7 linked regions of the Homo sapiens genome follow. The protein of the gene in region 7 purifies or fractionates together with the protein of the main gene of each other region. This does not show direct contact. Each region holds a gene or a part of one and is shown on either strand. Other genes may lie near its edges.

Region 1 (3,500 bases), on a different chromosome or scaffold from region 7:
CAGATCATGAGGTCAGAGTTCAAAACCAGCCTGGCCAATATGGTGAAACCCCTTCTCTACTAAAAATACAAAAATTACCCCAGGCGTGGTGGTGGGCGCCTGTAATTCCAGTTACTCAGGAGGCTGAGGCTGGAGAATTGCTTGAACCTGGGAGGCGGAGGTTACAGTGAGCCAAGATCGTGCCACTGCACTCCAGCTTGGGCGACTGAGTGAGACTCCATCTCAAAAACAAAGAAAAAAATACATATATGGGAGAATGTGCACAGGTTATATACAAATACGACACCATTTTATATCAGGAACTTAAGCATCCACTAATTTTGGTATCCATGGTGGGTTCTGGAACCAATCCCTAGTGGATACCGCAGAATGACTGTATTGAACAAAATAATGGCTGAAAATTTTCCAGAATTGCTGAAAGACATGATACTTTATCTTCAGAAAGTACAATGAATCCAAAACAGGATAAACAAAAAGAAATCCATGCTAGAAAGACCACAGTCAAGTTGAAAAACACCAGAAATAAAGAGACTATAAAAGCAGCCAGACAAAAAGCTTACTACTGACACAGGAAGGACAATTGAAATGACAGCTGGCTTCCTAACCGCAACTTTATAAGCCAGAAGATACATAATAGAATTCAATCCTTAAAGAAATGCCAGAGACTCAGTGCTATACAGACTATATCCCTCTGCCCATGAGGCTTTTCAGCTGAAATCATAATAAAAACAACCTAAAATCCTCAATGCCTTTGGACATAAATGCATTCATGGGTCATGGAAGAATAATAAAATTGTAAAATGCTGAACAATGAAAATATTACATATCAAAATAAACAAGACGACAGTACAGCAGAACTAAGTAGGAAAGCTACATAGACTTAAATGCTTATGACAGGACCGGGCGTGGTGGCTCATGCCTGTAATCCCAGCACTCGGGGAAGCCGAGGTGGGCGGATTGCCTGAGGTCAGGAGTTCAAGACCAGCCTGGCCAACATGGTGAAACCCTGTCTCTACTAAAAATACAATAGTTAGCCAGGCATGGTGGCACACGCCTATAATCCCAGCTACTCAGGTGGCTGAGGCAGGAGAACCACTTGAATCCGGGAGGCGGAGGTTGCAGTGAGCCGAGATCACGCCAGCCTGCGTGACAGAGGGAGACTCTGTCTCAAAAAATAATAATAAAATACTTATGACAGAAAGTTGAAAATTAAGAAACTAAGCTTAGAGAAAATAGAAAAGAAAATGTTTCAATTCAGTAACCTAGAAAGAGAACACCAGAATAAACCCAAAGAGTGTAGAAGGAAATCCTGACAATGAGCAGAAATTAGTGATACGGAAACAAAGACACAGTGGAGAAAATGAGTAAGACTGATAGCTGGTTCTTTGTGAACACTAATAAAAAAGATGAGCCTCTGTGAGATGAATCTAGAAAAGAAAGGTAAAACCATTTTAGGAATGAAAAGGGTGATTTACTGTCAGATATAGTAGAGATTTAAAAATTAAGAAAATATTCTGACCTTTGTATCAAGAAACTGACAACTTGGGCTGGGCGCAGTGGCTCACGCCTGTAATCCCAGCATTTTAGAAGGCCAAGGTGGGAGGATCACCTGAGGTCAGGAGTTCGAGACCAGCCTGGCCAACATGGTGAAACCCCGTCTCTACTGAAAATGCAAAAATTAGCCAGGCGTGGTGGTGCGCGCCTGTAATCCCAGCTACTCGGGAGGCTGAGGCAGGAGAATCGCTTGAACCCGGGAGGCAGAGGATGCAGAAGCCCTGTGTTCTCCTTCCAGGTACTAGAGCCGGAGTCCTCAGGGCACATGGGTTTTGCTGGTGCGCGTGCTTTACCTTGATGAAGTCAGGTGCTGCATACACTTCTGCGGCTCACTCCTTCCACCCAGCGTTATCCTCCGGAGGCGCACACATGTTGCGGCCTGGAGGAGCTCCTTCCTTCCCCTTTCCATGGCGAATGTAGCACGAGGTTATTTTTCATTTTATTTGGAGACAGGCATTGAGAGAGCTCCCGGGGTCTGACTCCAACACCCATGCCACTATGAGCACCTCAGCATGTCCCCCGGGAAGCACACGGCAGGTGCACCCGCCACTCGATGCCATCTCCCTGCAGCTCCTGCCATTCCCAAAGCAGCCACGCTGGCACCAGTGCTCTGTCTGCCCCCACATCTTCTCCAGCACTTGTCCCCACAGTCTTTTAAGTTTCGCCGTCCCGGCAGGGGGAGGCCGCAGCTCTCTGTGGTTTTGTTTCTGCGTCTTCCCGGTGACCCATGACAGTGGATCTTCCATCTCTCCAGCTCCTTGCTTTTGGGTCACTTTGTTTGTATTTCTCACACCAGGCCTCCTCTGCTTCAAGGAGGCAGAGTGGGACGATTCAGAACTAAACGGCCACTGTTTGTACCCACACCGGAAGGCAGCATGGTAGAAGCATTTCCCTAAAATCAGGAACAGGACAAGGATGGCCTGTCACACTTCCATACAGCCCTGCTCAGGAGGGCCTGGCCCAGGCAGCAAAACAGGAAGGAAAAATACGAAAGATATAAGGAAGAAACAGAGTCTTCACCACTCCCACATGACGTGAATGTCTACTGAGAAAATCCCCAAAATCTACAAATAAATTTTAAGCAATGGCAAGGTGATCAGCTGTTAAATCAATACCCAAAAGTCAACTGCATTTCTACAGAACACCAGCAAAGACTTAGAAATCAATAAAAATAAAAAACACCATTTACGGCCGGCGCGGTGGCTCACGCCTGTAATTCCAACACTTTGGGAGGCCGAGGTGGGTGGATCACTTGAGGTCAGGAGTTCGAGACCAGCCTGGCCAACATGGTGAAACCCTGTCTCTACTAAAAATACAAAAATTAGCTAGGCATGGTGGCGTATGCCTGTAATCTCAGCTACTCGGGAGGCTGAAGCAGGAAAATCACTTGAACCCGGGAGGCAGAGGTTGCAGTGAACTGAGATCCTGCCACTGCACTCCAGCCTGGGTGACAGAGCAAGATTTTGTCTCAAAAGAAAAAAAAAAAAAAACACCATTTACAAAAGCAAGAACAATAATAAGGGCACCTGGGAATAAATGTAAGCACAGAGTGTCAGGTGGAATGTGAAATACCACGGTGCTTTATCAAAAGACACCTCGGAAGACCTGCACAGTCAACTCTAGAGAGATAAAGGGCTTAAGCAGAGAAAGCAAACTTTACAACTTCTACAGAAAAATACAGAATACATTTGTGACCCAAGAATTGGGAAGAACTTAAAGTAACATGCAAAAGGCACTACCTAGAAAAGAAGGATGGATAAAATTATACATTACATTAAAACTATCTTTTCACCAAAACAAAAAAAGTGAAAAGATAAAACCCAACTGGGAAAAATATATAATGCACACATTACAGCCAAAGATGAACATCCTGAATCTATAAGGAAATATATAATATGGAAACTATATATAAGGAATAGGTGAGAAAAAGACATCACCCAAAAGAA
Region 2 (3,500 bases), on a different chromosome or scaffold from region 7:
TGTACACCCTCACAGCCCTGACGGAAGGACAGGACAGAGGTTCCCAATCGGCCAACTCACTCTCTAGTGGCTCTTGGTGGACCAGGTAGTAACGCGCAGAGAAGCCATCCTTGGCCACCGCCATGTCCGTGTGAAAGGTCAGGGAGAGGATCCCCGTCGATGAACGAAGTTCAGAGGGTGTTTTGGTCCCACAGTACTTGCCAATCAGGGGGCCAACTGGACATTCAAGACAAAGAGAAGTCAGTGGAAATCAAAATGTCAAACTTGGTTTTCACTCCGTTTTCCCTTCCCCTCATTGCATTTCATTCAGTGGAGCACACTTTGTACATCTTGCCATAAAAACCAAAGATATGTTTCAAGAACAATGGCTAATATTTTTCCTGCACATCAAAAAGCACTTTCACTTTTTCATTAAAAAGGTACAGGCCACTTTCACTGGCTTCATTCTGTTCTCAGTGGCCTGGAAGATGAGCTGGAAAGGTATCATTACAATGTCTGTTCTACAGAGGAAGAAACTGAAGTTTGGAGAGCGCATGTGATTTCTTTATTCTTACTGCTAGGAAATAGCAGAGCTGGGCCTACAACCCAAGTTTTCTGACTAAGTCTTGTGATTTACCCAGGAAATGAAATTGCTCTTTTTGCTTAGTCATCAAGTCTCCTTTATATTAGAAAAAACTTACAATGACTACAAAAGTGAAAGATTTGTTCCTCTCCAATACTAATTAGACCCAAGATCCATGTTGGTCTTCACCTGCGAAGTACTGGTGGCTGTTAGCCTTGGGTGATGTACCTTTTCAATATTTATGACTATATTAATGACAATTTTAAAATTATAGTAATAATGATGATGATAGCAGCTAACTTAACACAGATAAGGCACAGATAGGGTAAGGGATTTGTCTAAGGTTGCACAGCTGGGGAGTAGCAGAGCCGGGAGTTAAGCCCGGCCAGTCTGGCTCTGGAGTCCTTCTGTTTTGTCACAGGGGTTAGCCACTGAGCCACCTTCTATCCTGACAATTTGGAGTAGAAATGAACACTTTAAGTTTTCTCATCCTTTCCAAGTATCTATTTAGTCTCCTATCCTTTTCTAAAGAAATATTTCCAAGAAAGTAGACAGCCTTCCTGTAATTTCTCTCAAGCTATCCTTAGTGAAGGGGAAGAAGAGAAAGTCACCATGGGTCATATAAGAACTCATAGGAGCTTTGAAGTCTTTGTTCTTCCTCTTTATCATCACTAAAGCAATTAACAGGCAAAGGCCAAGCTACTGAGGAATGCCTCATGACATCACTCACCATGTGGAATGCCATCCCAGATGTCCAGCCAATCGTACTTGCAGTCCCCCTCTCCCACCTGCAAAGGGTCATGCTCCAGGTCAAAGATCAGGAACTGCAGGATGATCTCCATCTTGGGTTTGGCCAGGATGGTAAAGGTGCAGTCCAAGTTGTGTGGATACTTCTCAGGAAACCCAGGAGATTCGATGGTCCCGTTGGGGCTTGTGAAGTTTTTTGAGCAATCTTCAGAGCCTGTATGTAAAAGAGAACTGTAGCACTAAGAAGAAGATGCCTTTCTTTGTGGCCTCTGTCACATGGGTTATTTAAATGTTTGGCCCCAAATCCCCCTGCTCTTGAGGTTTTTGTTGCTACTGGAGTGGCCCTTGAAGCAACATACTCTTCACATGCACGTTTCAAGCCCTCATAAATTAGGGAGGCACAGCTGGCTTGCTCTACATAATTATTAGAGTGAGAGCAGCAATTGAGGAATTGGGGAGTGGGGTGGAGGTACAGAGAAGTGTGTGTGTGTGTGTGTGTGTGTGTGTGTGTGTGTGTGTATGAGAGAGAGAGAGAGAGAGAGAGAGGGATTCTCTTGAAAAGAGGAACAGAGTCTTCTTTCTCAATTACTCAGCTGCTCACTCCAGAAATGTAAGTTATTTCAATCCTTAAGGAAGCCTTGCTGATTGCCAGCAGGGAAAACAATGTTACCCCTTATTTGTTGCTGACCTCAACACTAGCCCCTATTGTACCACAGCCAACGAAGTGCCCCCTTCTCCCTCCAAGATCCAAGGTGCCTCAGGGGAGGGGCAAAGGGGAGCTTGGGTCTCATTCATGTCATGACTATATTAAAACGAGCTGCTCTGTAGTGGTCGGACAATTAACAATCGATGTTTTTAGCTGGTGGATCACAGCAGGCCGTTGGGGATGTTAAAGGCCGCTCCGGCAACAAGTTTGGAAAAATGCAGCAGTGCATTGACATTTGGAAGGCTTCTGGCTCCTTTGTGGTGTGGATGGCCTTGTTTCTCTCCTGAGCTCTTGCGTCTGCTTTCTTGGGACGCATGGAGGCATCCTGATTAAATGCGGCACACATTCGCATCCTGGTGCGAGCTTGGATGGCAGCAGGAGCAGGAACAGGAGCTCATAAGAGGATTACAGCCACCCTATCTCTTAATGCCTCTAGGTGGAGTCATATTAAAAGGGTCCTTGTGCTTTAACCAGCCACCATTTGCCAGGGCAGCACCACAGATGGGTCCCGGGAGCACTGCAACCCAGACCCATGGACCCACGAAGCACGAGCTCATGCACATTCACGCAATGAATGAAAGTGCTGGACAATTAGAATTGATTTCACTCGTTATGTTCAGATTTTAAAAGAAGAAAAGGAAGCAGGATTTTTGAGGAGGATAATAGACACTCTAAGCATAAAAAACACAACCAACCAGAAATACTCGATAAACTGGGTGTTTACTGTCAGGAAGTGTCCTCTGGGGCTCACACTGAAATATAACTAGGTGATGTCAATACACTGATCTGAGCCTGCAGCGATGCCTTTATCCGCAGCTCCTGTAGGGGGCCTCTCATTGAGTCTCTTTATTGATGACAGCATTCTGGAAAGAGGCAAATGTCTGATTTGGAAGAAGTGCCATGCAAATAAATGCGGATGGAGGAGTTGCAACTTTCTTCAGCACCAGACAGAAAATTCCAGTATCTCCTACCTATCCATCCATCACTTCCTACTTTCCACCTTGTGCTGTGCTTTGGCAGGGTAGGGACTAGGAACACACGAGGGCAAGGGCTAACCTTTGCATGGGTTCTGTGGAGGCTCTAAGCAGCGAATCTCAGAGGCTCTGCACCCCATCATTCATATGCATGGCAGCAGCAGGTCAGGCCGAGTTTTCAATGGGCAGCTAGTCCTGGAGGGATGAGCTGGGGCTGCCTCCCCCAGCTTTGTTTATGATTGGGCTTCGGACTCCTGAGGGCCTCCTCAATGGCCCGGGATGAGGCAATTCAGCAAAGCCAAGCCAGCTGGCGGGTCTTCAGGGGGCCAAGAGGAATTTTGAAAAGGTTAGAGTTTATGGCTGCTGTGCAGCATTCTTCATGCGGGCCACTCAGCTGAGCCTCACACATGGTTGTGAGGAAATTAACTCTCTATTCACTTCTTGCTTGAGAGCTAGAAAGAGCATCCTGACATGCCCTCTTAGAGCTTGCTCTATTGTCATTCCCTTAGAA
Region 3 (3,500 bases), on a different chromosome or scaffold from region 7:
AAAATAAGACTGACAATGTGTTGATAACTGATAAAGCTGGGTAATGAGTAAATGAGTGTTTATTATACACACATCTTTTCTCCACTTTTGTCTTAAAACTTTTAGGAAAGTTTCCAAAAAAGACAAGCATAAGTGAAATTTTTTGAACTGATAAATATGAAATAATTGTAGCAGTATGTGACATATTTTTTTCTAACAGAACATGTTTCCCATTTTTTTCTGTAATAATGAAATGCACAAAAATCAAATTTGTATCACATCAGTTACCCAGAAAAGTTTGATAGAAGGTTTTCTGGTCAAAGTTTAATTCTCAGAAAACTTTAAAGAAAATTCCAGCTCAGGAAAGGAGAAACCTTTCTAAGAGGCAAGATATACTTCACACAGGTACATAATTTGTCATTTTCACATAAAATCAGTGACCTTCATAATTCTTAAACATATTCAATAAAATCATACAGCAAACACTAAACATACACACTTACAAGCAATAAAATCATAATAAATATATATGTATGGAGCCTATTGTGTTAAATAAGAATTACTGTCTAAAAAATTAAAGGTCACGTAATCTTTACTGCTACTACTATTAATACTACTAGGCCTAATTCTGGAGTTAACTGAAGCTTTGAGCAAATAAGCAATATCCAAAGTATTAAAAATTGAGAAAATAAGAAATATAGCATGTCCTCAAATACGATTGTTTTGTCCGTCTTTTTTTATAACACGATGGGTGCCAGTGGTGGGGAGAGCTGAGGCCCAGCCGCGACCACTATCTACATGGAGTTTGCATGTTCTCTCCCTGTCTGCATGGGTTTCACTCCAGGTACTTCAGTTTCCTCCCACATCAAAGCTACGCAAGTTAAGTGAACCAGCACATTTAAATGGTCCCAGTCTGCGCGAGTGTGAGTACACCCTGCGATACGATGGCATCCTGTCTAGGGCTGGTTCCTGCCTCGTTCCGCCAGTTGCTGAGATACGCTCCCACTACCCAGGAGCCTGAAATAAAACAACTGGGTAAATAATTACCTTACTTGTTTTTATTTCTTTCTTAAATGAATGTATAGCTCATATTTATTTCAATGATTAATATCAGAAGTGTTTTAGATCTTTATTTAGAAGTTTGGTGATTTTTTGTGACCAAAATATGGCATAGGAACTTAAATCTCATTTGTATCAATTAGCCTATGGTAAAACTGGTTTCATTTCATTTAAAGTTGCAGTTTTCAAGAACCTATCAGTAATGTTAAGTGAGAACTTATGGTATAGAAAAATGATGCATATACCAAATAAGTGGAGGAAAAGGAAAATTAGAGGAACATGACAGAATGTGTCCAAATTTGTTGACAAAGAAAATAAAAAACATTGATCTAAATATTTAAACGCTACGAAGTAACCTTTGAAAGTAACTATGAAACTGAACCCACCTTGTCAAAGCAAACAAGATTGAGCTGTCCACAAATATTTATTCTTTGAGGACTGATACAGAAAATACCGATTTTTTTCAGTCTTCTCTGAGCATACACAATACCAGCAGTCATTGCAGCAGGAAGTGCAGGGGGCACAGTAATTGTGATAATATCAAGAGACTCGATAATTATGACCCCAACTTGTACCTACAATTAACACAAAAATAAATGTCAAATCCCCAGTATTATTTACGGATTTAATATGGGTATTTCTTTAGTGAAAATCTGTAAGCCATTTTCAATTGTATATTTCAATTTTATGTATGTGTGTGTATATACATATCTATTAACCATATATAATTTTTTTCTTCAGATATTTCTGCAAAATAAAAAAGCTCAATGGATTATAGAATGACAGCTACTTTCAAAAGAAACTTATCTCATTTTCAAGGCGCTACATACTTCACACATGACACACTTCAAAGCCGGTCAACAATCATTATCAGATATTGACTCAGCGTGCACACACCTTACTGTACCACTCTCCACTTCTGACAAGCGGCGCCTTCAATTAACTAACCACAAATCATTTTAACACTGTATATTACATCTCAGAGGTAAAAAAGAGAAAATAAAGCTTTTGGTGATTATGTGGGGGGGTTTTTTTTCCTGTTTTTTTTTTTTAAAGTCACAAGACCAAGTAAAAGACCATCTAAACCAGAGGCACCCAAAAGAAGTATCCTTTACAATGGAAATGTTCTATAGCTGGGCTTTCTAATATCATAGCTACTAGTCTCATGACTTTGTTAGCATTAAATTAATTAAAATTAAATTAGCTTAAAATTTTAGTTCCTCATTCTCAGTAGCCACATTTCAAATCCTCAATAGCTGCATATGATAAATAATTGAGGTTCAAACCCTATTAAGAGTCCCACATACATACCTCATTTAAAATGCTATTAATAATAGTGTAGATAAACCCAATGCCAGCAACTGCCACAAGACATAGTAGAAACAAGTAGGCATCTCTGTAGAGTTTAAAATCAGTTGGTTTGGGATACAATATGGAACGAACAAGCTGTCCTTTGGAAGTACTAAATCCTTTCAAAAAAAGAAGACAATTATTGATATTTTTATAAGAAAATGAGAATTATCTCCCAAAACAGAATCTCTCTTTTTTTTTTTTTGAGACAGAGTCTCGCTCTGTCACCCAGGCTGGAGTACAGTGGTGTGATCTCGACTCACTGCAAGCTCCGCCTCCTGGGTTCACGCCATTCTCCTGCCTCAGCCTCCCGAGTAGCTGGGACTGCAGGCGCCCGCCACCAGGCCCGGCTAATTTTTTTGTAATTTTGGTAGAGACGGGGTTTCACCATGTTAGCCAGGATGGTCTCAATCTCCTGACCTCATGATCCGCCCACCTCGGCTTCCCAAAGTGCTGGGATTACAGGCGTTAGCCACAGCACCCAGCCCAGAATCTCTTTTTAAACATTTAGTAGGTATCAAATATGCTGAAACATGCAAAAAGAGATTAATTAAGATGTTTCCTACCTGTTCTAACAACTATGGCTTTGACGAGTTCTCCAGTGTAGAAACGAGTCTGAATAACAGTTGTCCCACAAAACAAAGTATGTCGTTTATGTGTTTCTGGATTATATAATTCATCTCCTATTCCTTTCACATCCACTGAAGGATTTGGCAAATTAGTCTTTGTCACTGGAACACTTTCTCCTTTAAAAAACAACAACAACAACAAAAACAGTTTACAAATTATTAAACGAAAGCACAGGAATCAGTATCGAACACCAAAAAATATTAAATTGTTAAATATTTTAAATGCTACCATACTGTTTACAATAATCACTGAGAGTTGTATATGTGGACAACATGGCTTAATTTTTTGTCTACCAATTTCCTCACATAGAAGTATCAAATATTATCTCCCACAATAATTCCAGAAAGTGATTTGTGGCTCAAAGGTAATATTTGTTTATATTTAGAAACAGTTGCATTGTTCAGTTTCAAATAATTTCAAAAAAGATTAAGTAGTTGCTATAGTCCCTGCACCTCTAAGAACTAATGGTAACAGTGGAAAGC
Region 4 (3,500 bases), on a different chromosome or scaffold from region 7:
CATTTATATGATACTGTCCCAATTTCTCCCACACACGTCCATCTTCCCCGCTGGGATCTGTGGACATAGGTACTGTGTCCTGTCCACCCCTATTATGTTTAGCCAGTTAAGTGCCTGGCACAGAGTGGGCACCCAAAAAAATACACATTTGTTAAGTGAGTTAACCGGGAAGAGAGGAAAGAGAGGGCACTTCTAATATACCTTCCTTATATACCCTACGACAGCTGGTACAGACTGTTTCATAAAGATTTTGTGAAAAACTGGATGAAAAGATAGAGGGATGAATGGATGAAAGAGAAAATGGTAGGGATTCAAGGAAATCAGCACTCACCTGGATGCCCCAAGTTTGCAGTTGCTCTTCTGCGGCTCCCAGGTCGAAGGAGATGGGTGCACAGGTATTGTCAATCCGGAGAACAGTGAGGACCTGGCCATTGTGGAGCTCTGGAAGCAGACCAGAAGCTTCATCTGGCTGAGTGATAACCATACCAGGCTCGTGGGGTGAGCCCGAAGCCTGGCGGCATCACACCTCTGGCCATGAGAACCTCCTCGCAACAAGGAGGGACACGGTGGCCATCCTCAAATCCTCTTGAGAGAAGGACTGGATTTGACTGGGAAGCCCCCAGGAGGCAGAATTAAGGCCAGAGGGAGGAGGCTCCTAGGACCACAATGTGAGACCATATAAGGAAGAATTTTCCAAGAGCAAAAGCTGTCCCCATAAAAAATAGGCATTTTTTGTCCCCACAAAAAAATGTTCCCCAACACAAGGAATATTTAAACAGAGACTGAAAAACTACATTGAGGGGGGTGATGCAGTGGACCTTTATTTAAGCATTGCAAAGAATGCTCAGCTGAATAAGTTAAATTCCCAGTAGGCTCAGAGAGTCTAAGTAAGAAATAACTGGTCACAGTAGGCAGAACAATGGCCCCAAAGATGTCCACACCCTAATCCCCAGAGCCTGCAAATATACTGCCTTCCATGGCAAAGGGTGGAAGTAAGGGGGCTCATTAGCTGGCCTTTAATAGGGAGACTATCCTGAATCATCCGGGTGGGCCCCATGAAATCACAAGGAACCTTAAACGTGGAAAAGCGGGACAGAAGTAGAGTCAGAGGGAGATTTGACTATGGATGAAAGGCAAGGAGGGATGTGGCATCGATCGCTTTGACCATGGAGGGAGAGGGCCATGAGCCAGGGAATGTGGGTGGCCCCAAGGGGCTGGACAAGGAAAGGAAATGGATTCTCCCCAGAGCCTCCAGAAAGAAAAACAGTCCTGCCACCAAGGGGATTTCGGCTCAGTGAGATCAGTGTCAGACATCTAACTTACAGAACTATGAAATAACAAATCCAGCTGGGTGCAATGGCTCACACCTATAATCCCAGCACTTTAGGAGGCCGAGGCAGATGGATCGCCTGAGGTCAGGAGTTCGAGACCAGCCTGGCCAACATGGTGAAACCCTGTCTCTACTAAAAACAAAAATTAGCCGGGCGTGGTGGCACGTGCCTGTAATCCCAGCTACTGGGGAGGCTGAGGCAGAATTGCTTGAACCTGGGAGGTGGAGGTTGCAGTGAACCGAGATCACGCCATTACACTCCAGCCTGGGCAACAAGAATGAAACTCCATCTCAAAATAAATAAATAAATAAATAACAAATCTGTGGTTGGTTTGGCTTGTTGTTGTTGTTGTTGTTGTTGTTGTTTTTTGGAGACAGAGTCTCTCTCTGTCACTCAGGCTGGAGTGCAGTGGCACGATCTCAGCTTACTACAATCTCCACCTCCCAGGTTCAAGTGATTCTTGTGCCTCAGCCTTTCAAGTAGCTGGGATTACAGGCATGCACCACCATGCCTGGCTAATTTTTGTATTTCAGTAGAGACACAGTTTCGCCATGTTGGCCAGGCTGGTCTCAAACTCCCAGCTTCATGTTATCTGCCCGCCTCGGCCTCCCAAAGTACTGGGATTACAGGCATGAGCCACTGCACCTGGCCCAAATCCGTGGTTTTAAGCCAGTATGTTAGTGGTAACTTGTTATAGCAGCAATAGAAAACTAATACACTGATTTACTGTAATCCCTCCTACGTATGGCTGCAACACACTCCGCATTTCAAAAGCATAAAATACGTGTTTATTCCCTCAAAAAACACGCATCAACCCAGGCTGCTCACAACTGCTACCAAAGCCCCCGCCCTCCAAGGGTAGGATGAAGCCAGACCATGAGACCAGCTGGAGAGAAAAGTCTGGACTGAAATCCCCTCAAGACCAGGGAGGAATGGCAGCAGCACAAAGCCAAACCTACCTGCCTGCAGTTCCAAGTAGAGAAACTGGACAAAAGGATCGAGATCTCCTTGCACCACAGTACAAGGCCCTGTGAGCCACTGGTCAGCAGCCAGGAGGTCTGGGGGGTGGGAGAGATTCCAGCCCTGGGATTCTAGGATCCCAGGTTTCAGCCATGCACTGCTGAGGACTGGATATTTTGGCATATTCTCTATGGCGGCTGCTTAGACAATGAGGCAGGACAGAAGAGATTAAAGCATAAGTGTGTTGTCTGCTGATCCAAAACTCCTGTCACCCCAGTCTAGCTCTGAACAGTACTTGAGTCTTCAAAGCCAAATGACTCACTCCACTTTCCAGGAAATTCCTGGCCTATCCAAACCCTCTCTCTCCCTGCTCCCCCAATGTATCACCAAGCCCTGCCAACTAGGCAAACAAAACATCTGTCCACTCTGTGCCCTCCTGGCATCCTCACCTCTCCCTTGGCCCTCTGCAGTAGCCTCCTAAGTGGCTTCTGCTGCAAACCTACCTTTACTTCTACAATGCATCTTCCACACAGTGGCCAGGGTGCAGATCAGATGACACCAATGCCTTGAGAAAACTTTCAATCGCTTCCTGTTGCTTTGCAAAAGCCAACCTTGTTACCACGTTCTTCCAGCCCTTAGGAAAACTAGCCTCCTGCCAGACTCAGCTTGAGCCCCTCAGCCTCGTTCTATGTCTCACCACACCCGCCTCCTTCAGTCCCTGAACATGATGTTCTCCCCCACCCCAGGGCCTTTGCATATACTGTTCCTCTCTCTAGGACACGTCTACCTAGCTTCACCCAGTTACAGCCCATGCATCATTTGTATCCCAGCTCATGATTCACTTTCCCCAGAGAGGCCTCCTTGACACTCTAAACTCCTAACTGATCAAATCCTCTGCTAAACCTACCATAACTGACGCTCTTCTCCTTAATACTCGCCCAAGCTAAATACCTATGTATGCAATTATTTGATTACATATGCATGAAATTACTTGAATAAAATCTATCTTTTCCACCAGACTATACACTCTCACACTGGTTTGTTCATCACTGAATCCCCTGATCTGATACAAACAGGAGGCACATTAAATACACGTTTGGTGTATAAACAAATTAATAAGATAGGAAAAGGTTCTTTTTCTTTTTTTTTTTTTTGAGACAGCATCTCACTCTGTCACCCAGGCTGGAGTGCAGTGACACTAACATGGCT
Region 5 (3,500 bases), on a different chromosome or scaffold from region 7:
AGGTCTTCCTGCTAGTCTTTAGCATCTGCCAGCTGCCATGCAGATGACTGGTGTCGTCAAACAGGAATGACAGATTGGTGGCAAGTGGGCACAAGAGTTAAAAAATGGTGACAACTTAGACCAGCTGCTCATCTAGCTGGGTGTAGAGCTCACTTTAAATGGAAATGGCAATTTTACAGGTCAAGTGTGTTGTGTATGAATTTCTTTGCGGTCCTACTGCCTCCCAGACACCAGCGTGGGCTCCTTTCTGAGCCACATGTTTAGCAGCATGCCTGGGACCCTGGGAGAAGGCGGCAAACGGGCTATTCCATGGAGGACAGATCCTTGTTAAGGGGCTGTTCCGAGTGCACCTCTGGGAACTCTTTCATTTGGTTACTAAATTCCTTTCTGCTTTTCATGTAGAGAATAAAGCTCATTAGCTGTGTCTTTTAAGAAAGCCAAGTGCTTCACATGAGATACTTATTAAAATATTCTCAAATCCATTCTAATTCTGTTCTTGTGAAGAATCAGTTTCATTCCACACCCCATCCAGCATCTGGCAGAAGAGGTGCCCTATCCCAGTCAGGGAAGAGAGAGTTGTTGGGATGGTTTCATTGCCCTCTCTCTGCTCAGAACCCAGGTATTGTCTTACTGGGGTTCAACACCTGGTTCTTGTACCATGGAGCCCTTTGTCCTAAGCCCTTGTCCATTACACAGCACCATCTACACTACCAAGAATTTCTCATAGAAGTGTAGTGCAGTGTGTGTGTATATAATGCAGAGGGGATCATAGTTCTGAGGTCAAGCAAATTTAGTATATTTAATAAAGTTAAATCAGGCTCCTTTACTAGGTAAATGTTCTGTGGACTGTGGGTCTTCGAGAAGAGGTATGGTGGGCAAGTTTCCCAAATTTGCTGACCCAGAATCTGTCCTGTTGTTTCATTTTGTTTTTGGACCAGTAGAACACACACTGGGAAGGCAGGTAACACAAAATAGCCAGATCATCAAATGCGAGATCCATATAATGCAAAATCAAGACAGCGTAAAATTTGGGATCCTTCTCCAATCTGTGTTTTACACCAATTAAATGTATTTATTTAGTAAGGCACTTAAGTGCTGGGTGAAATATAAAGGGGTGTAGTTCAAAACTAAACTCCCACTGTCAGGAAGCTCAAAGCCCAGTGATGGAGGGGGCCACGAAGATCTGGACAGAGCAAACTAATAATGAGATAGGCTGTGATGGCAATCAGGATAGAGGCCCAAACAAAGCACTGGGATTGGAAAAGGGAGAGAATCCATTCTGTTGAAAGGAGCAGGAATACTTTTGAGAAAGAGGCAAGTGAAATGGACTCCAGTGGATGCTTGGAATATCAAAAGAGAGAGATGGAGTAAGGATGGTAAAGGAAGAAATAGGAGCAGGGTGGGCCCTCCAGGCTCAATAAACAGTCAAAGAGAAATGGAAAAGCAACACTATTACCAGAAGGTAGTAAATGGTTCAGTTTAGCTAGGACAGTTAGAAGAAGTAGAGTTCAAAAGTGGCTAGAAGGATACTGGGGAGGGCCCTGCGTGTCAGGTTGGATCTGCAGTTAAGAAACAGGCAGCCATGTCAGTGCTTGAGCAAAGAGGAGACGGTGCCATCCTCAAGCGGGTGCCAGGTACATGGCAGTTTCTGATAATCTTCTGAAATTATCCTTTGTTGAGTGCACAAAACCACCCTACGGAATAGATGGCCTATCTTTTTCAGTTTAGAGCTGGATTGGGAGCACCCATGAATGCAGTTGGAAGGCATCATGGGAGACAATGGGCCTGGGAATGAGCAATTACTGCCCAATTACTCTGAAAGCATTTGTAAAATCCTAGTTATAAGAGGATAATATGGAACAAGTCTACTGATTGCATTCACCCAACATGATAGGAAATACACACATAATATGTGTACATACATAATTATATATGTCTGCGTATATGTATATCTACATACACAGACACATATATAATCAGAGACTACCAAGGCTCCACAAACCACAGCATCTGTCTATAATGCTCAACTTCATAAAGAGGAGTTAAAGTGTTACAGTGGTCTCGATAAACCAGAGATTCTGACAGGTGGTGGAAGATAGGGCTTAATAAACAAGGTGATATTGCTGGCAAAGTTATATCCTGAAGACTTGGCCAAAAACAGATTTAGAACTGTTGAAGTTGTGGTTGAGTGGGGAAGGAACTGCTGATATTGAGCCATTGCAGCCATGGAGCTGTTGCAACTGCTGAACATGAGCCAGCGCAGCTAGATAACAGGCATCGCTCAAAGTCTGTACTCTGGGTGATGCACACACACTAAAATGTGGGGTCCTCGGGGAGCCTCACCTTGAGCTGTAGAATGAATGGAGATGTTACAAGGTTGGCTTAAAATAAAGGCCTTTATTTGTTTGCTTTGTTTTGGGCACTAACCTGACTTGGATAAAAAGCACAAAAGTGAAGCCTCTGAAAATCAGGAGGAAAGCTTCATCCTGGTTGATGTCCATAAATGCTCCCTTTTCCCCATGCTGCACAGCAAAGTACTGTGGTCCCTTCTTTCCTGGATGACACCTGCCCTTCTCAACAAGGTTCCACAAGAATACGAAGCCCCAATGCTTCCAACGTATAGAATGATTTGCTTCTATCCCTCCTATCTAGAATGTTCCATCCTTGGGAGAATTCACAAAGACTCCCTTGAACTTTTTCCTAGAGGGCCTAATTTACTCTCCCACGAGCCCCAGTTGAGATGGGCTCCCTTCATTACTAAGCCACCTTCCCCCACAGCAAGCCTTCCATCCCATACCTGCAAGGAAGGAGCAGGCAATGTAGTGAGGTGTCTGAAGCTGCTAAGCCCTTTCACTTCATAACCAAATAAAAGCTCCATCAGGAGATATTTTTTAAAAAATGTCTGGAGGTGCAGACTTGCTTGGGATGCTCAGTTGTATTTCTGCGCATGTTTGAAAATCAGTCAATATTTTTTAGTTGGAGACCCAACCAATATAGAAGGAGAAACAGCAGTTTTCACTTGACTTAGGGGGAAATTTACTGCTGAAAAGTTAAGTCTGAATGAGCAACACCAAGAAAACCTGGAACAGCCTATTTATCTCGATGTCTAAAACTGTCCAGAGGGCAGAGATACATGGTCATATCTTTAATCAAAATGCCCTAGGATTCAATGAGTGTCTCGTGGTGAGAAAAAGCAACTGAACTAGTAAAAAAAGAGAACGACATTTCAATTGCCTGATCTTCCTTTTCCTGAAACACCATCACTTAGAAGGTCACGGCTCCCAACAGGCTTCATTAACATTCAAAACGCCTCTGCTTATCTGAATAACTTCCAGGTGCCCTACTGCAATCAGACAATTGACATTTCACGGTAATCAATATCAGGCTTCAAAGAGGTCGAGGACTATAAGTGAACATGAGAGTCAGAAATCAAGAGGCTCAGTCTCGGAGAAGGAGAGAGACAAGAGAAGGAAAGACAGAGGGGTCAGAATCCTGACCTT
Region 6 (2,596 bases), on a different chromosome or scaffold from region 7:
AATCAAATGCCTACACCCCCAACCTCTTTCCTTACCACTTTCTTCCCTCTTATCCCTCTCCAGCCACAGTGATCTACTCAGTGTTCCTTGAACCTGGCAGGAGAATCCTTTGTATATAGCATTTTCTCTTCTTACAACATTTTTTCTCACGGATAAATGTCCTTCTCTAACTTTCTGTAGGTTTCTGCTCAAATGCTTCCTTATCCCTGAGGCTTTCCCTGATCACCCTCTATAAAAATGGGGTGGGTGCACACACCTTCACTTTTTGTACATTACAAAAACTATAACAGGATTCTTGACTGATTTTGTATATTCGTAACAGTGTGCAGTACATAAAAATCCTTTTTTAAAATTGCTGAACTAATCCATATTTATCACCATCTGACATACTCTAGATTTCTCTTCCTGCTGGAATGAAAACTTCAAGAACATAGAATAGCGCCTGGCGCCCAGTAATTGCTCAGTAAATACTCAGTGAATATAAATGATCTACTCTGAACTTTTAGTGTGTTCCTTTTTACTAAAAGCTTAATAGTAAAAGACCACATCTTAATCAAAGGTTGTTACTTACCACCCTCTTTTGGCAGTTCTATTAGCAAATGTCCAAGGTGATTTTTTAAAGACATGTAAATAAATCGTTTTACCTCTTTTCATGCAAATAGCGTAATTTTTCTTGCGAAAAAAAAAAAAATCACTTTTGAAAGTGAGCTGAAATGAAATCAGTTTTCTGTGGACCTGCAGCTTTCACTGACAAATGGGGGCGCTAAACCATTGCTGGTGGTATGAACATCCTGCTGTCAATCCAGCATCTATCTACTCTTCTATTGCTCCTTGCTTGCAAAGTGTAGAAATGCTTTGTAACCTGAGAGAAGCATTATAATTATTACCTTTTTGGGGCTCCCTGTGCCAGGCATATCGGCCTACACTGCGTAGGGCAGCAGTGAAGAGGGAGGACTGTTACAGATATAATTAAAGGCCAAACCACACATTGTCATATAGATTTTAATAGATTTTCTGATTAACTCATCACAGTAGTCGTTTTTACTGTAATGATATGCAGCTTTACTACACTAGTATAAATAAAAACAGATAAATACAGCTCTAGGCAACATTACAGATTAACTAAGCATTCTTCGTGAACCAAAACTGAAAACAATTAATTATTAAGAAGAAGAGATGCTGACACCCTTGCCCATTCTCATCATACCTTCTCAAAAAGGGTATTCAAACAAGGCGCTACACTTATTATATTGGTAAATTAATTTGCCAATTAGCCAGGCACAACAATTTCATGGTCTCCACTATTTCATTATTTTGGTTGAAAAGGAGACACACTTCAATGTATGAAAAAGAAAAATGGAACAGATAACACCAAAGAAAACCACTAAATGCATTAAAAATACGGCACTTTTCCTGTATTTTAGCAGTAAGATAGAAATACTAGGGATAGAAATATACCAAAAAACAAAATTAATGCTTTAATTAATATCCACCCTGAAATGTCAGTCTCTGAAGCAAGATGGGCAATTAAAGGAGGAGCAGAAATAAAAAAGGGAAATATGATAAAATAAACTCCATGTGAAGTTTTACGAAGCTATCTGCAAAGAAACCGATTTGTCCTTTGAAGGCTATTAACTCAGGACAATTAAGTTATCCAGCAGCCATGCTGAGGAGTTCATAGTCTAGCAATACGTTGCACACAGGCAAATACACTTAAGACGAGTTGGAGATATACAGAACTATCATTTAGAAATGATTTTACTCTGGATGGCTCAAAAAACTTTGAAAGGGCTATGAAGAAAACTTGAAGTCTGTCAAAGGAGAGAAGTAATAAGGAATAATTTTAGGCAGATAGCACAGCTAAGAATGTTTCCCAAAATCCCGAAAATTTTGCTCAACTTTCAATCCTCATTCTTATATGGCTTCATGATCTTATGTCTTCAGGATCTTACAGATCTTAATAGGTATACTATAATTAAGAACTAGGAAGTGAAGAATCACTTTCAAAATGTAAAAACAGCTCATTGCCAGTTGTGTTTCAGAAAATGTCTGTCTGGGCCAGGCGCAGTGGCCCACGCCTGTAATTCCACCACTTTGGGAGGCTCACGCAGGCAGATTGCTTGAGCTGAGGAGTTGAGACCAGCCTGGGCAGCATGGCAAAACCCCATCTCTACTAAAAATACAAAAAAATTAGCTGGGCATGGTGGCGTGTGCCCGTAGTGCCAGCTACTTGGGTGGCTGAGGCGGGAGTATCACTTGAGCCCAGGTGGTCAACGCTGCAGTGAGCCAAGACCATGCCCCACTGCACTCCAGCCAAAAAAAAAGAAAATGTCTGTTTGCAAAAATTTCATTTTCCTATCAAAAATGCATAATTACAGAATATTTAGCCCAGTCCTTTGAGTAAACTGCCTTTGCCAATTGTGAATTAAGGCTGTGATTAAAACAGACAATTCCAAAAACAAAAATCCCAAATATAATCCAGTGCATTTTCACTCATCCTGCAAAAAATGTTCAAACCATCACTGACCACTTCAAATATGGACGTAACCTAGCCCGAGATTCAAAGGTTATTTTCAGATTAAAATTTTAACTGCTA
Region 7 (2,983 bases):
GTATATGTATGTAACTAACCTGTACGTAGTGCATATGTACCCTAAAACTTAAAGTGTAATAAATTAAAAAAAAAAGAACTTGTGTGTGTGTATGTGTTTGTGTGTGTGTGTAGATGGCATCTCACTATGTTGTCCAGACCGATCGTGAATTCCTGACATCAAACAATTCTCCCACTCAGCCTTCCAAAGCACTAGGATTTGGGTTTCTTTTTTGGATGACTAAAATACTCTAAGCCAGATTGTCATGATGGTTGCATAACTCTGAATACGCAAAAACCACAGAAATGTGCGCTCTAATGGGTACATTGTATGGTAGGTGAATTACATCTTAATAAAGCTACTATAACTCAAAAATTAAAACTCAGATAAAGACATACAGATCAAGAGTTGTGGAAGTAAACATGCTTTTAACATTTACTGAGCACCTACTATGTGATGAGTGTTGTCATATACAGAAATCTTTACACCTGCCTTACAAGGTAAGCATTACTAGCCACACTGTGCAGACAAGGTGATGGTCATCCTCCTATCATATTCTATCAGCACTTCCACACCAGCTACTCAGGTGCCTGAGGAATAGAGTGTGCTGAGGAAGGTCCTCTTCATGGCAACCTTCAGTTCTTTGTTCCTGAGGCTGAAGATGATGGGGCTGAGGAAGGGCGTGAGGACTGCGTAGGTGGTGGCCATCAGGGTGTCACCCTCCTGAGAGTGGGGACCTTTGGGCTTGAGGTAGATGACAGAGGCAAAGCCATAGTGCACAATGACCACAATAAGGTGAGAGGCACAGGTGGAGAAGGCCTTGTTCCGACCTTCAGCAGAAGGGATCTTCAAGATGTCGGCCACGATGAAGGCATAGGAGAGGAGGATGAGGAGAAAACAGCCCAGCAGTGCCATGATACATACCAAGCCCACGCCCAGGGCCACAGCTGGTACATTATTTCCACAGGCCAACTTCAACAGAGGTGGCACATGACATAAAAAATGCTGGATCTCATGGGATCCACAGAAAGTCAGTTGGAAAATGGCCGAGGTCACCACCATCCCCATGACCGAGCCACCAGCCCAGGAGCAGCCCACCAGGCAGGCGCAGCCCCGTGGGCTCATGAGCACGTTGTAGCGCAGGGGGTGGCAGATGGCCACGTAGCGGTCGTAGCCCATGACGGTGAGCAGGAAGGAGTGGGTGAAGCCGAAGCTGAAGGAGAAGAACATCTGACTGGCACAGGCCAGGAAGGCGATGGAGCGCTGGGTGGACAGCAGGTCGGCCAGCATGCGCGGGATGATGGCCACGGTGTAGAGGATCTCGGAGACTGAGAGGACGCACAGGAAGAGGTACATGGGCGTGTGGAGGCTGCGCTCGCTCCAGACGGTGGCCATGATGAGCAGGTTGCCCAGCAGCGTGAACAGGTACATCAGCAGGAACAGCAGGAAGAGCATCAGTTGGAGGTGGGGGAAGGCAGAGAAGCCGACGAGGATGAATTCAGACATGGAGGTGTGGTTTAGCCCCAGCATGACGGCCACCCCTAGTTGGGGAAGAGAGGAAAGAAGACCCAGTGGTTAGGAGCATGGGGGTGTCTAGTGATTCCTGCCTGGGAGGACATCTGAGAGCGCCTCCTTCATCTGTCCAAGCCATGGTTACTCCATCTGCAGAAAGGCATTAATAATAATGTATTGAGGTTTAAATAAGATCACTCACCTTAAGTGCTTTGTGCAGGTCCTGACACAAAGTAAGAATTTAATAAATTATAAATGTTGATAGTAATAATTATTCTGCTATTGTTATTGCCATCACGATTATTAGATCCATGCACCACCACCTACACCTTGCTTTTCTGCCTTTGTTCATGCTGGTCTTTTCATGCTTTTCCCTATCTTTATGGGTCCAAATCCTACCTGAATTTTATGAGCAAGCTGCTCCCTGATTGCCACCTTCAGCTGGAAGTCATCTCTTCCCTATGTCATGGAAACGTCCAGACTCTGTTTAATTCTCGGCACCACTGCTTTCTAGCTGTGAGATGCAGGGCAGGTTGCTTCCCCTCTCTGAGCCTCATTGCTCCCCTGGAAAATTGAAACCACCTTTGCAAAATTATGACTGAGACAGCGAAAGAGATCTAACTTAACCAACTCCATCTTGCTTCTAACCTCCAAGCTGTCCTTGTTCATTCCAGGACATAGGGTGAACTAACTTTGGGGGAAATTTAGTTTATAGTTTATAGTTTATAGTTTGGAACAAGGACGATAACAGCCCTTTCCCAAAGCAGACCTCCTTCTTGTCTGGGGATTAGATTGCCTTTGTAGAACTAACATTAGCCACAAGATTAGAAATTATGGTTTAGGAGTCATGCAGCTGGAGGCTACAAGATTCTGACCCTCCCTAAATTGCTCCCAAGATCAGTGCTTGAGATATTTTGCAGATCCTGCACTTGATGGATCAGCTGGCACCACCCAGGTCGATAAACTGGCTCAACTGATCTTGTGGCCCCCACCCAGGAACTGACTCTCCGCAAGAAGACAGCTTTGATTTCATCTCTGACCAATCAGCACTGCTGGCTCACTGGCTTCCCCTCCACCCACCAAGTTGTCCTTAAAAACTCTGCTCCCCAAGTGCTCAGGGAGACTGATTTGAGTAATAATAAAACTCCAGTCCCCTGCAGAGCCAGCTCTGTGTGAATTACTCTTTCTCTATCACAATTCCGCTTTTTTTTTTTTTTTTCTTTGAGACAGAGTCTCACTCTGTCCCTGCTGGAATGCAGTGGCATGATCTCGGCTCACTGCAACCTCCGCCTCCTGGGTTCAAGCAATTCTCCTGCCTCCGCCTCCTGAGTAGCTGGGATTACAGGCCCGCATCACCACACCTGGCTAATTTTTGTATTTTTAGTAGAGATGGGGTTTAACCATGTTGCTCGGGCTGGTCTTGAACTTCTGAGTTCAAGTGATCAGCCTGCCTCAGCTTCCCAAAGTGCTGGGATTTATAGGTGTGAGCCAC

The links.
Region 1: the proteins of OR10H2 (region 7) and AGPAT3 purify together in Homo sapiens (affinity purification with mass spectrometry; one large-scale study listed by BioGRID and IntAct). This does not show direct contact.
Region 2: the proteins of OR10H2 (region 7) and NRP2 purify together in Homo sapiens (affinity purification with mass spectrometry; one large-scale study listed by BioGRID and IntAct). This does not show direct contact.
Region 3: the proteins of OR10H2 (region 7) and ATP13A3 purify together in Homo sapiens (affinity purification with mass spectrometry; one large-scale study listed by BioGRID and IntAct). This does not show direct contact.
Region 4: the proteins of OR10H2 (region 7) and TMEM268 purify together in Homo sapiens (affinity purification with mass spectrometry; one large-scale study listed by BioGRID and IntAct). This does not show direct contact.
Region 5: the proteins of OR10H2 (region 7) and ST7 purify together in Homo sapiens (affinity purification with mass spectrometry; one large-scale study listed by BioGRID and IntAct). This does not show direct contact.
Region 6: the proteins of OR10H2 (region 7) and CLCN3 purify together in Homo sapiens (affinity purification with mass spectrometry; one large-scale study listed by BioGRID and IntAct). This does not show direct contact.

What each region holds. Positions count from the first base shown.
Region 1 is NC_000021.9:43,871,723-43,875,222, reverse strand, and holds part of AGPAT3 (1-acyl-sn-glycerol-3-phosphate acyltransferase gamma), read right to left. Parts: intron 1-3,500. UniProt on the Homo sapiens protein: Converts 1-acyl-sn-glycerol-3-phosphate (lysophosphatidic acid or LPA) into 1,2-diacyl-sn-glycerol-3-phosphate (phosphatidic acid or PA) by incorporating an acyl moiety at the sn-2 position of the glycerol backbone.
Region 2 is NC_000002.12:205,720,501-205,724,000, reverse strand, and holds part of NRP2 (neuropilin-2 isoform 2 precursor), read right to left. Parts: intron 1,524-3,500; coding exon 1,293-1,523; intron 217-1,292; coding exon 61-216; intron 1-60.
Region 3 is NC_000003.12:194,445,503-194,449,002, forward strand, and holds part of ATP13A3 (polyamine-transporting ATPase 13A3), read right to left. Parts: intron 3,135-3,500; coding exon 2,955-3,134; intron 2,508-2,954; coding exon 2,350-2,507; intron 1,614-2,349; coding exon 1,425-1,613; intron 1-1,424. UniProt on the Homo sapiens protein: ATP-driven pump involved in endocytosis-dependent polyamine transport. Uses ATP as an energy source to transfer polyamine precursor putrescine from the endosomal compartment to the cytosol.
Region 4 is NC_000009.12:114,621,291-114,624,790, reverse strand, and holds part of TMEM268 (transmembrane protein 268), read right to left. Parts: intron 2,489-3,500; coding exon of another isoform or gene 2,291-2,488; intron 656-2,290; exon of another isoform or gene 485-655; coding exon of another isoform or gene 442-484; coding exon 332-441; intron 1-331. UniProt on the Homo sapiens protein: Stabilizes cell surface expression of ITGAM and participates in the adhesion and migration of phagocytes during bacterial clearance.
Region 5 is NC_000007.14:117,226,001-117,229,500, reverse strand, and holds part of ST7 (suppressor of tumorigenicity 7 protein), read right to left. Parts: intron 1-3,500. UniProt on the Homo sapiens protein: May act as a tumor suppressor.
Region 6 is NC_000004.12:169,721,578-169,724,173, reverse strand, and holds the end of CLCN3 (H(+)/Cl(-) exchange transporter 3), read right to left. Parts: 3' UTR 501-2,596; downstream 1-500.
Region 7 is NC_000019.10:15,726,570-15,729,552, reverse strand, and holds OR10H2 (olfactory receptor 10H2), read right to left. Parts: upstream 1,530-2,983; 5' UTR 1,510-1,529; coding exon 562-1,509; 3' UTR 501-561; downstream 1-500. UniProt on the Homo sapiens protein: Odorant receptor.